2 separate regions of the Homo sapiens genome follow, and region 2 is linked to region 1. Evidence: fine-mapped expression QTL. A gene starts in region 1. The other region holds a variant in brackets. All regions are shown on one strand. Distances are between the middles of the regions. Region 1 holds the start of GDF9 (growth differentiation factor 9). Region 2 has its middle 16 kb from the start of AFF4-DT.

Evidence for each region. PIP is the estimated chance that this variant, and not a neighbour inherited with it, causes the effect.
Region 2: its variant is the best candidate, but not a certain one, in a credible set for the expression of GDF9 in left ventricle (GTEx, PIP 0.70).

Annotation. Positions count from the first base shown.
Region 1 is chr5:132,864,210-132,868,209 of GRCh38, reverse strand. It overlaps GDF9 (growth differentiation factor 9), which reads left to right and starts at 1,741. Exons shown (of 2, transcript NM_005260.7): 1 at 1,741-4,000. The coding sequence starts at 3,677. UQCRQ (ubiquinol-cytochrome c reductase complex III subunit VII) reads right to left here and starts at 1,568. Exons shown (of 3, transcript NM_014402.5): 1 at 1,523-1,568; 2 at 1,175-1,341; 3 at 1-722. The coding sequence starts at 1,328. The coding sequence ends at 628. RefSeq lists enhancers at 1,230-1,730, 1,731-2,231, 1,090-2,289.
Region 2 is chr5:132,977,122-132,981,645 of GRCh38, reverse strand. No RefSeq gene overlaps it. Among named protein-coding and RNA genes, the nearest start is that of AFF4-DT, 16 kb to the right of the region's middle. The variant G/A (reference allele first, on the strand shown) is at 2,568.

The DNA of each region.
Region 1 (4,000 bases):
TCAGGAGTTCCAGACCAGCCTGGCCAACATGGTGAAACCTGTCTCTACTAAAAATACAAAAAATTAGCCAGGTGTGGTGTCCTGCACCTGTAATCCCAGCTACTCGGAGGCTGAGACAGGAGAATCGTTTGAACCCAGGAGGCACAGATGGCAGTGAGCCGAGATCACACCACTGCACTCCAGCCTGGGTGAGAGAGCAAGACTCCATCTCAAAAAATAAAAAATAAAAGCGTCCCTGACACATACTAATTACAATATAGTTAGTAGACTTTATTGTTGCTATGGGAGCAGAGGGCCAAGAACCAGCACTCGCCATAGCCCATGTCACCCACAAATGGTTAGATGCAGGAGTACCTGCAGCTACTTTCTTGTAGATAATGGAACAAAGGGGGAGCCCTGCTCTTTCACCAAAACCCGAGACCAGGCAAAACTTCAAGACTCATGCTGAGGAGGGGCGCTTCATGAACTTGAATATTAGTGGTCACACAGGATTCTACTCACAAAAATGTAATATCACAACAGTGCAGACCATAGGAAGTTTATTGTGTCTTTGAGACACTACAATGCAGACTCCTCTTCCAGAGAAAGGTCTTTCAGAGACAGGGAACCGTCATCCGGATGCGTTGCTCATTTGTCATTTTCATAGGCAGCTGGATTCTTCCTCTTGGATCTCTCGAACTCTTCAGTCCCCCATGTGTAGATAAGATAAAACACTACAAACTCTTTAAAAATTAAGAGAGTAAACAGAGAGCACACATATAAGACATATAGAAGAAAAAAAAAGGTCTCAGTCCTCTTGTCTTCTTTAAAGCATACACTTCAGTAGTTCTTAGCATATCCAAGGCCATGCAACTATCATCACTATCTGCTGCACGTTTAACACAAAGCATTTCACCACTGGTAAGAACTAAATAAAGGTGACCTCAGAGGAACATGCTGGAATCACCCGAGTGACCTTGGGCCAGTCATTTCAGTTCTGTAGCTCAGTTTTCCCCGTGTAAGATGGGGAGGATAATATGACCAGCTTAAGGGCGGTCAGGAATATTCAATGAGAAAGGTGTGTACGGCAAGTTACAGAGCGCCTGCCCGGCCGCCAGCGCTCAGAGGGGAGGCGCAGTGACTGCTGCTGCTGCTGGGGTCCAGCCTCCCGCTCCCGCGGGCCCAAGGCACTCACGCGGCACCACGCGAAAGAAAGACTCCCGAATGCGGCGCAGAACATTGGGGATTCCTTTAGTGAAGACGTGCGGATAGGCGCGCTGCTCGAACGGTGACAAGCTGTAGCTGATCACATGCCGCATCCGCGTCAGATTCCCAAACTCGCGGCCCATTGTGGCGGCGGCCCTGCAGGACCGAGGGTGGACAGGCGCTTGGCTCGCTTTCGCGAAGCGCCGCAGTCCCCGCGGGGGTCCATCCCCAACCCCAGACTCCTGCCCCTGCACTCCTTATCCTTTCCCAGCCCAGCGGGGCGCCCCTAGCCTCCCAGGGTCCACGAACACTGCACAACCAGACCCCACTCACGCACAGGGCTCAGCTCGCCCTCCACAGTCACCGATCCGGTTGACTCGTTCGTCATTTCCGGCAAGGTTGGAAGCCGCTCTTGGAGGTCGTGAGGTAACTTCCGGGAGATACCATTTTCCTACTGTCTCTAAGGGATGACGCCTTTGTCCCAGAAAGAAGTGGGCTGACTGGGTGACCCGTAGGTGGGAGGTGCCTTGGAGGCCCTGCCCGGGCCGGTGGGGTGGAGCCTAGCGGAGGACGTCGGGGATTGAACTGACTTTGGGGGACAGTGGACAGGCGGAGGCGCTCACACTTCTCCTCAGCCCTCGGCTTTTCTGTGGAATCCCAGTCAGGAAGCGGCCGAATGCGGGAGGCGGGGGAGGGAACAAAAAGGTGACGAGGAAGGGGCCTGCCGACCTCCGGGGCAGCGCTGGCCAGGAGCTTGGGGCCTGCGAGTCTTCCCAGCTGTAGACAGAGCGCCTCTGAGCCCCGAGGCCGGGCCGCCCCACAGCAGAGGAGCACGAGGTTTCATTTGGCCTTGGCCAGTAGCTCAAAGGGGGCTTCGTTATTTTCAGGCCATGAGCGACCCCAGCACCAAAATCAGGGACACACATCGAAGGCTTCTCTTGGACTCTGTTTTAGAGTCCCCTGGCAGGCTGTTAACGTTCCCAAGAGATAATACAAACGTTTCGTCAGTTTCAGCCACAAAAATAATCAAATAATCGTCAATTGATGAATGCTGAGGCCGCCTCGACAGCAGCCAGCGTCCTCCCCAGATGGTTTGCGTGGGGTGGGGGGAATCACGATGCCCCAGTTCTTTCTTCTCCCCACGTGAGAAGCAAGGAAAGTCGGGTGAGAGGCCTTATTATGTTTTCCCTGAAGTGCATTCTGCTTGACGATGCTGTTGTCAATGTACAGCTCGCCCTGAGGTGTCTTGTCAGTGTTTTGTTAATGGAATTGCTGGCCATATTTTATCTAGGACTAAGCTCTCATTCAACAGTTGGCTGTGTTTTATAACACTACTTACGGACCACGGAGGCTCGGCAGGCAGTCAACTTGTATTTTGCAGACATACCTTAGTTTTCTCATGTAGGTACTGCACAAACTGGCTTCGTATCTTGCACTATGAGTGTAGGCTGACTCTTCCAGCATAGTCTCCTTCGGGGTGGCGCTGAATATCCCCTCATTTCAGCTTTTCATGGTGCTCCTTTGCCTCATTTTTTTAAACCATAATGTCTAGCCTGGTCTCAGCTCCAAGGCAAGAACAGAAATACAGGTAAGGACAGAAATATTGTGGCAAATTCTACCACCATTTGGATGAATAATAATAAAACGTTCATTTATTTTATAGCATCTGCAAACATCCCAAAACCTTTCAACCAAAATATGTATAGATGAGTGTGCAGACCAAAGTAAGGACATCAGTATGTTACATTTAAAAATAAGTCAAGGTTAAAGGCGGTGTCCTCTTTTAAGAACATCGCAAATACAATTCCAGTACTCCAAGTACGTATTCTGTACCCAGCCACCTGGGAGGACTGAGAGACCTAATGGTTTTCTGCTTTCTGGAACTTCTATGCCAATTGTGACTTTCTCACCCAAATTTGTAAATTCGCAAATTAACATGCAGCGAATAATTACAATTGTAAACACCTGGAAGTGGAAAAGGCCGTGAGGATAAATTGAGAGGAAGAGTAAACCTAATACCATAAGTTGCATACCAGCAGATCTGAGTATCGTCATGAATAATTGGTTAGCTTTTCCACATGCCTTAGAAGTTTCAGCAAGCACCTAGCGAACATCTTAATCCAAATTTCTCAAAAAATGAGAGATTTTATTTAAGATCATTCCTCAATTTATCTTAGACTTTCAGCTACATAGTTAGTCCGGTAGTGTAACAGTAACGGGTTTTACGTAAATGCCAGGGGAAAAGAGAGGAAAGCTAAATAACCAAGTAAATCTGTATCTAATTAACAAATTGGCTAAATAAGGTGTTATCAGCTGCTTGATATAGAGCTGATAAAATCTTCAGCTAGGCATACTTGAGGCCTGATTACAGAAGTGACCGTAGTCCACCCACACACCTGAAATTTATTTAAGAGACCAAGCTAGGCTCTTCCTGGCCTTTAGGAAGAGGACTGGCATGGAGAAATATGTTCCTCACTAGTTCTCCCAAGCCATGGCACGTCCCAACAAATTCCTCCTTTGGTTTTGCTGCTTTGCCTGGCTGTGTTTTCCTATTAGCCTTGGTTCTCAGGCTTCTGGGGGAGAAGCTCAGATTGCTGCTAGTGCTGAGTTGGAATCTGGGGCTATGCCTTGGTCCTTGCTGCAGCATATAGATGAGAGAGACAGAGCTGGCCTCCTTCCCGCGCTTTTCAAAGTTCTATCTGTTGGGCGAGGTGGGTCACCTAGGCTGCAGCCAGACTCCAGAGCTTTGCACTACATGAAGAAGCTCTATAAGACATATGCTACCAAGGAAGGGATTCCTAAATCCAATAGAAGT
Region 2 (4,524 bases), 110 kb before region 1:
TTTAGTGTTCATTAACATTTTTTTCCTGTGTAAATTGCTTAAAATTATGGTTTGGATTGTGATAACCAGCCTTTAAGATGGTTCCCAATGATAATAATTTCCAGTTACTTATGACCTTATATAGTCCCTTTCCATATGGAATCAGAGATAACCTATGTGACCAATAGAATAGTACAAGAATAACAGTGTGTGACTTCAGAGGTGAGGTCATAAGAGGCATTACAGCTTCTGCTTTGTCTCTTGAAACACTCACAAGGACTCGTTCTGTTGCCCAGGCTGGAGTGCAGTGGCATGATCATGGCTCACTGCAGCTGCGACCTCCCTAAGCCCAGGAGATCTTCTACCCTAGCCTCCTATGTAGCTGGGATCACAGGCACGCACCACCATGCCCGACTAATTTTTTTTTTTTTTTTGAGACAGAGTTTCGCTCTTGTTGCCCAGGCTGGAGTACAATGGCGTGATCTTGGCTCATTGCAACCTCTGCCTCCTGGGTTCAAACAGTTCTCCTTCCCCAGCCTCCCAAGTAGCTGGGATTACAGGCATGTGCCACCATGCATGGCTAATTTTGTATTTTTAGTAGAGATGGGGTTTAACCATGTTGGTCAGGCTGGTCTTGAACTCGTTACCTCAGGTGATCCACCCACCTCGGCCTCCCAAAGTGCTGGGATTACAGGTGTGAGCCACCGTGCCTGGCCTAATTTTTTTTTTTTTTTTTGTAGCAATAGTGTCTTGCTGTATTGCTCACGCTGCTCGGGAACTCTTGGGCTCAAGGGATCCTTCTGCATTGGCCTCCCAAAGCGCTGCGATGACAGGTGTACGCCAACGTGCCTGGCCCACCAGAATAAATCTTAGAATATTCTGATCACCATGAAAAGAAACCCTAGCTGGGCGCAGTGCCTCATGCCTGTAATCCCAGCACTTTGGGAGTCCAAGGCGGGTGGATCACCTGACCAACATGGAGAAACCCTGTCTCTACTAAAAAATACAAAAATTAGCTGGGCGTGATGGTGGATGTCTGTAATCCCAGCTACTCGGGAGGCTGAGGCAGGAGAATCGTTTGAACCCTGGAGGCGGAGGTTGCAGCGAGTTGAGATTGCACCATTGCACTCTAGCCTGGGCGACAAGAGCAAAACTCTGTTTCAAAACAAAAACAACAACAACAACAAAACCCTGTACCCATTAGCAGTCATTACCCATTTCCAGTGTCCACCCCCCAACCACCCAGCCATAGGCAACCACTAATCTACTTTGTGTCTCTATAGATTTGCCTATTGTGGACATTTCATACAAAGGGAATCATAAAATATATTTTCCTTTGTGGCTGGCTTTTTTCACTCAGCATAATGTTTTCAAGGTTTGTTCATATTGTAGCATATATCAGTAATTCATTTCTTTTTATTACCAAATAATATTTCGTATGTACATACCAATTTCATTATGGATTCATCAGTTGAAGGACATTTGGGTTGTTTTCTACGTTTTGGTTTTTTGAATAATGCTGCAGTTAACATTCATGTACAAGTTTTTGTGTGAAAATATGTTTTGAATTTTCTTAGGTGTATACTCAGAAGTGGAATTTCTGGATCACATGTTAACTTAGGTATATTATCAGGAGTGGAATTTCTGGATCTAGTGTTTTGAGGAACTGACTCTTTTCCAAAGCAGCTATACCATTTTACAGTGTAAACCCACTAGCAATCTATAAGCATTCCAATTTCTCCACATCTTCACAACTAGTATAGTTTGGATGCTCGTATCCCCAAGCCTCATATTGAAATTTGATCCCCAATGTTGGATGTAGGGCCTACTGGGAGGTGTTTGGGTCATAGGGGTGGATCCCTTATGAATAAATTAATCACCTCACTGGTCAGGGAGTGAGTCAGTTCTTACTCTATTAGTTTACACAAGAGCTGGTTTCTAAAAGAGCCTGGCACTTCCCCTGCTCCCTTGATTCCTCTCTTAACATGTGATCTCTGCACACATTGGTTCCCCTTTGCCTTCTGTCATGAATGGAAACAGCCGTTGGACCCCACCAAAAGCCTAACAGATGCCAGCACCATGCCTCCTGTACAGCCTGTAAAACTGTGAGCAAAATAAACCTCTTTTCTTTATAAACTGCCTAGCCTCAGATATTCCTTTATAGCAATACAAACAGACTAAGACACTAGTACTATAATCAAAATCAAGTATCTGTCATTTTGATCGTAGTCATCCTAGGGGGCATAAAGTGATACCTCACTGTTTTGATATGCATTTCTCTGATGGTTAATAATGTTGAGTATCTTCTTATGTGCTTAGTGGTCATTTGTATTTGTATACCTTCTTTGGAAAGATGCCTACTGAGGGCCAGACACCGTGGCTCACCCCTGTAATCCCAGCAGTTTAGGAGGCCAAGGCGAGAGGATCACTTGAGGTCAGGAGTTTGAGACCAGCCTGGCCAACATGGTGAAACTCCATCTCTACTAAAAATGTAAAAATTAGCCGGTCGTGGTGGTGCACGCCTGTAGTCACAGCTACTCTGGAGGCTGAGGCACAAGAATCACTTGAAGCTAGGAGATGGAGGCTGC[G/A]GTGAGCCAAGATCATGCCACTTGTACTGCATCCTGGGTAACAGAGTGAGAAGACTCTGTCTGAAAAGAAAAAAAAAAGAAGAAAGAAAAGAAAGATGTCTTTTGAGATCCTCTGGCCATTTTTTATTTATTTTCATTTTTATTTTTTGAGATGGAGTCCTGCTCTGTCGCCCAGGCTGGAGTGCAGTGGCGTGATCTCAGCTTACTGCAACCTCCATGTCCTGGGTTCAAGCGAATTCCTGCTTCAGCCTCCCAAGTAGCTGGGATGACAGGCGTGCACCACCACGCCTAGCTAATTTGTGTATTTTTAGTAGAGACGGGTTTCACCATGTTGGCCAGGCTGGTCTTGAACTCCTGACCTCAGGTGATCCACCCACCTCAGCTCTCAAAGTGCTGTGGCCCTTTGACCTTTTTTTTTTTTTTTTTTTTTGAGATGGAGTCTCGCTCTGTCAGCCAGGCTGGAGTGTAATGGCACAGTCTTGGCTCACTGCAACCTCCACTGCCTGGGTTCAAGTGATTTCCCTGCCTCAGCCTCCTGAGTAGCTGGGACTGCAGGCGTAACACCACACCTGGCTAATTTTTGTATTTTTAGTAGAGATGGGGTTTCACTGTGTTGGCCAGGCTGGTCTCGAACTCCTGACCTCGTGATCCACTGGCCTCGGCTTCCCAAAGAGCTGGGATCACAGGTGTGAGCCACTGCGCCTGGCCCCTTTGACCATTTTTTAAAAAAAATTTTTTATTTTTTATTTTGCTGTTGTTGTTGTTGTTGTTGAGACAGTCTCACTCTGTTGCCCAGGCTAGAGCGCAATGGCATGATCTCGGCTCACTGCAACCTCCGCCTCCCGGGTTCAAGCTATTCTCATGTCTCAGCCTCCTGAGTAGCTGGGATTACAGGCGCCCACCACGGCGCCCACCTAATTTTTGTATTTTTAGTAGAGACGGGGTTTCACCATCTTGGTCGGTCAGGTTGGTCTCGAACTCCCAACCTCGGGTGATCCGCCAGCCTCAGCCTCCCAAAGTGCTGGGATTACAGGCATGAGCCACTGTGCCCAGCGACCATTTTTTAAAAACTGGATTGTCAGGGGCCGGGCGTGGTGGCTCACGCCTGTAATCCCAGCACTTTGGGAGGCCAAGGTGGGTGGATCACAAGGTGAGGAGATTGAGACCATCCTGGCTAACACGGTGAAACCCCGTCTCTACTAAAAATACAAAAAATTAGCCGGGAGAGTAGTGGCGGGTGCCTGTAGTCCCAGGTACTCGGAAGGCTGAGGCAGGAGAATGGCGTGAACCTGGGAGGTGGAGCTTGCAGTGAGCCGAGATCACACCGCTGCACTCTAGCCTGGGCGACAGAGCGAGACTCTGTTGCAAAAACAAACAAACAAACAAACTAAATTGTCATTGGGTGCAGTGGCGATTGGATTAAATTGTCTTAGAAATTTTGTTGAACATTGGGCCGGGCGAGGTGTCTCATGCTGTAATCTGAACACTTTGGGAGGCCAAGGCAGGTAGACTACCTGAGGTCAGGAGTTCGAGACCAGCCTGGCCAACATGGTGAAACCCTGTTGCTACTAAAAATACAAAAATTAGCCAGGTGTGGTGGCAGGCACCTGTAATCACAGCTACTCAGGAAGCTGAGGCAGGATAATCGCTTGAACATGGGAGGCGGAGGTTGCAGTGAGCCAAGATCACACCATTGCATTCTAGCCTGGGTGACAGAGCAAGACTCTGTCTCCGAAAAAAAAAAAAAAGAATTCTTGTTCAATATCAACTACTTATAAATGAGAGGTGTTTATTTCTGGAGACTTTTCTTGTTTTTCATCTGTATGTCTTTGACTGTTAAAAAGGTGATGGATGTTAGCAAAACTGTTAAGTTGTTTATTCAATGAGCAATGTTAAGTTGGAAGTGACTGAAGAATTAGCTTCAAAGAGTAGTCTCTATGGAATAAGTACATGTGAG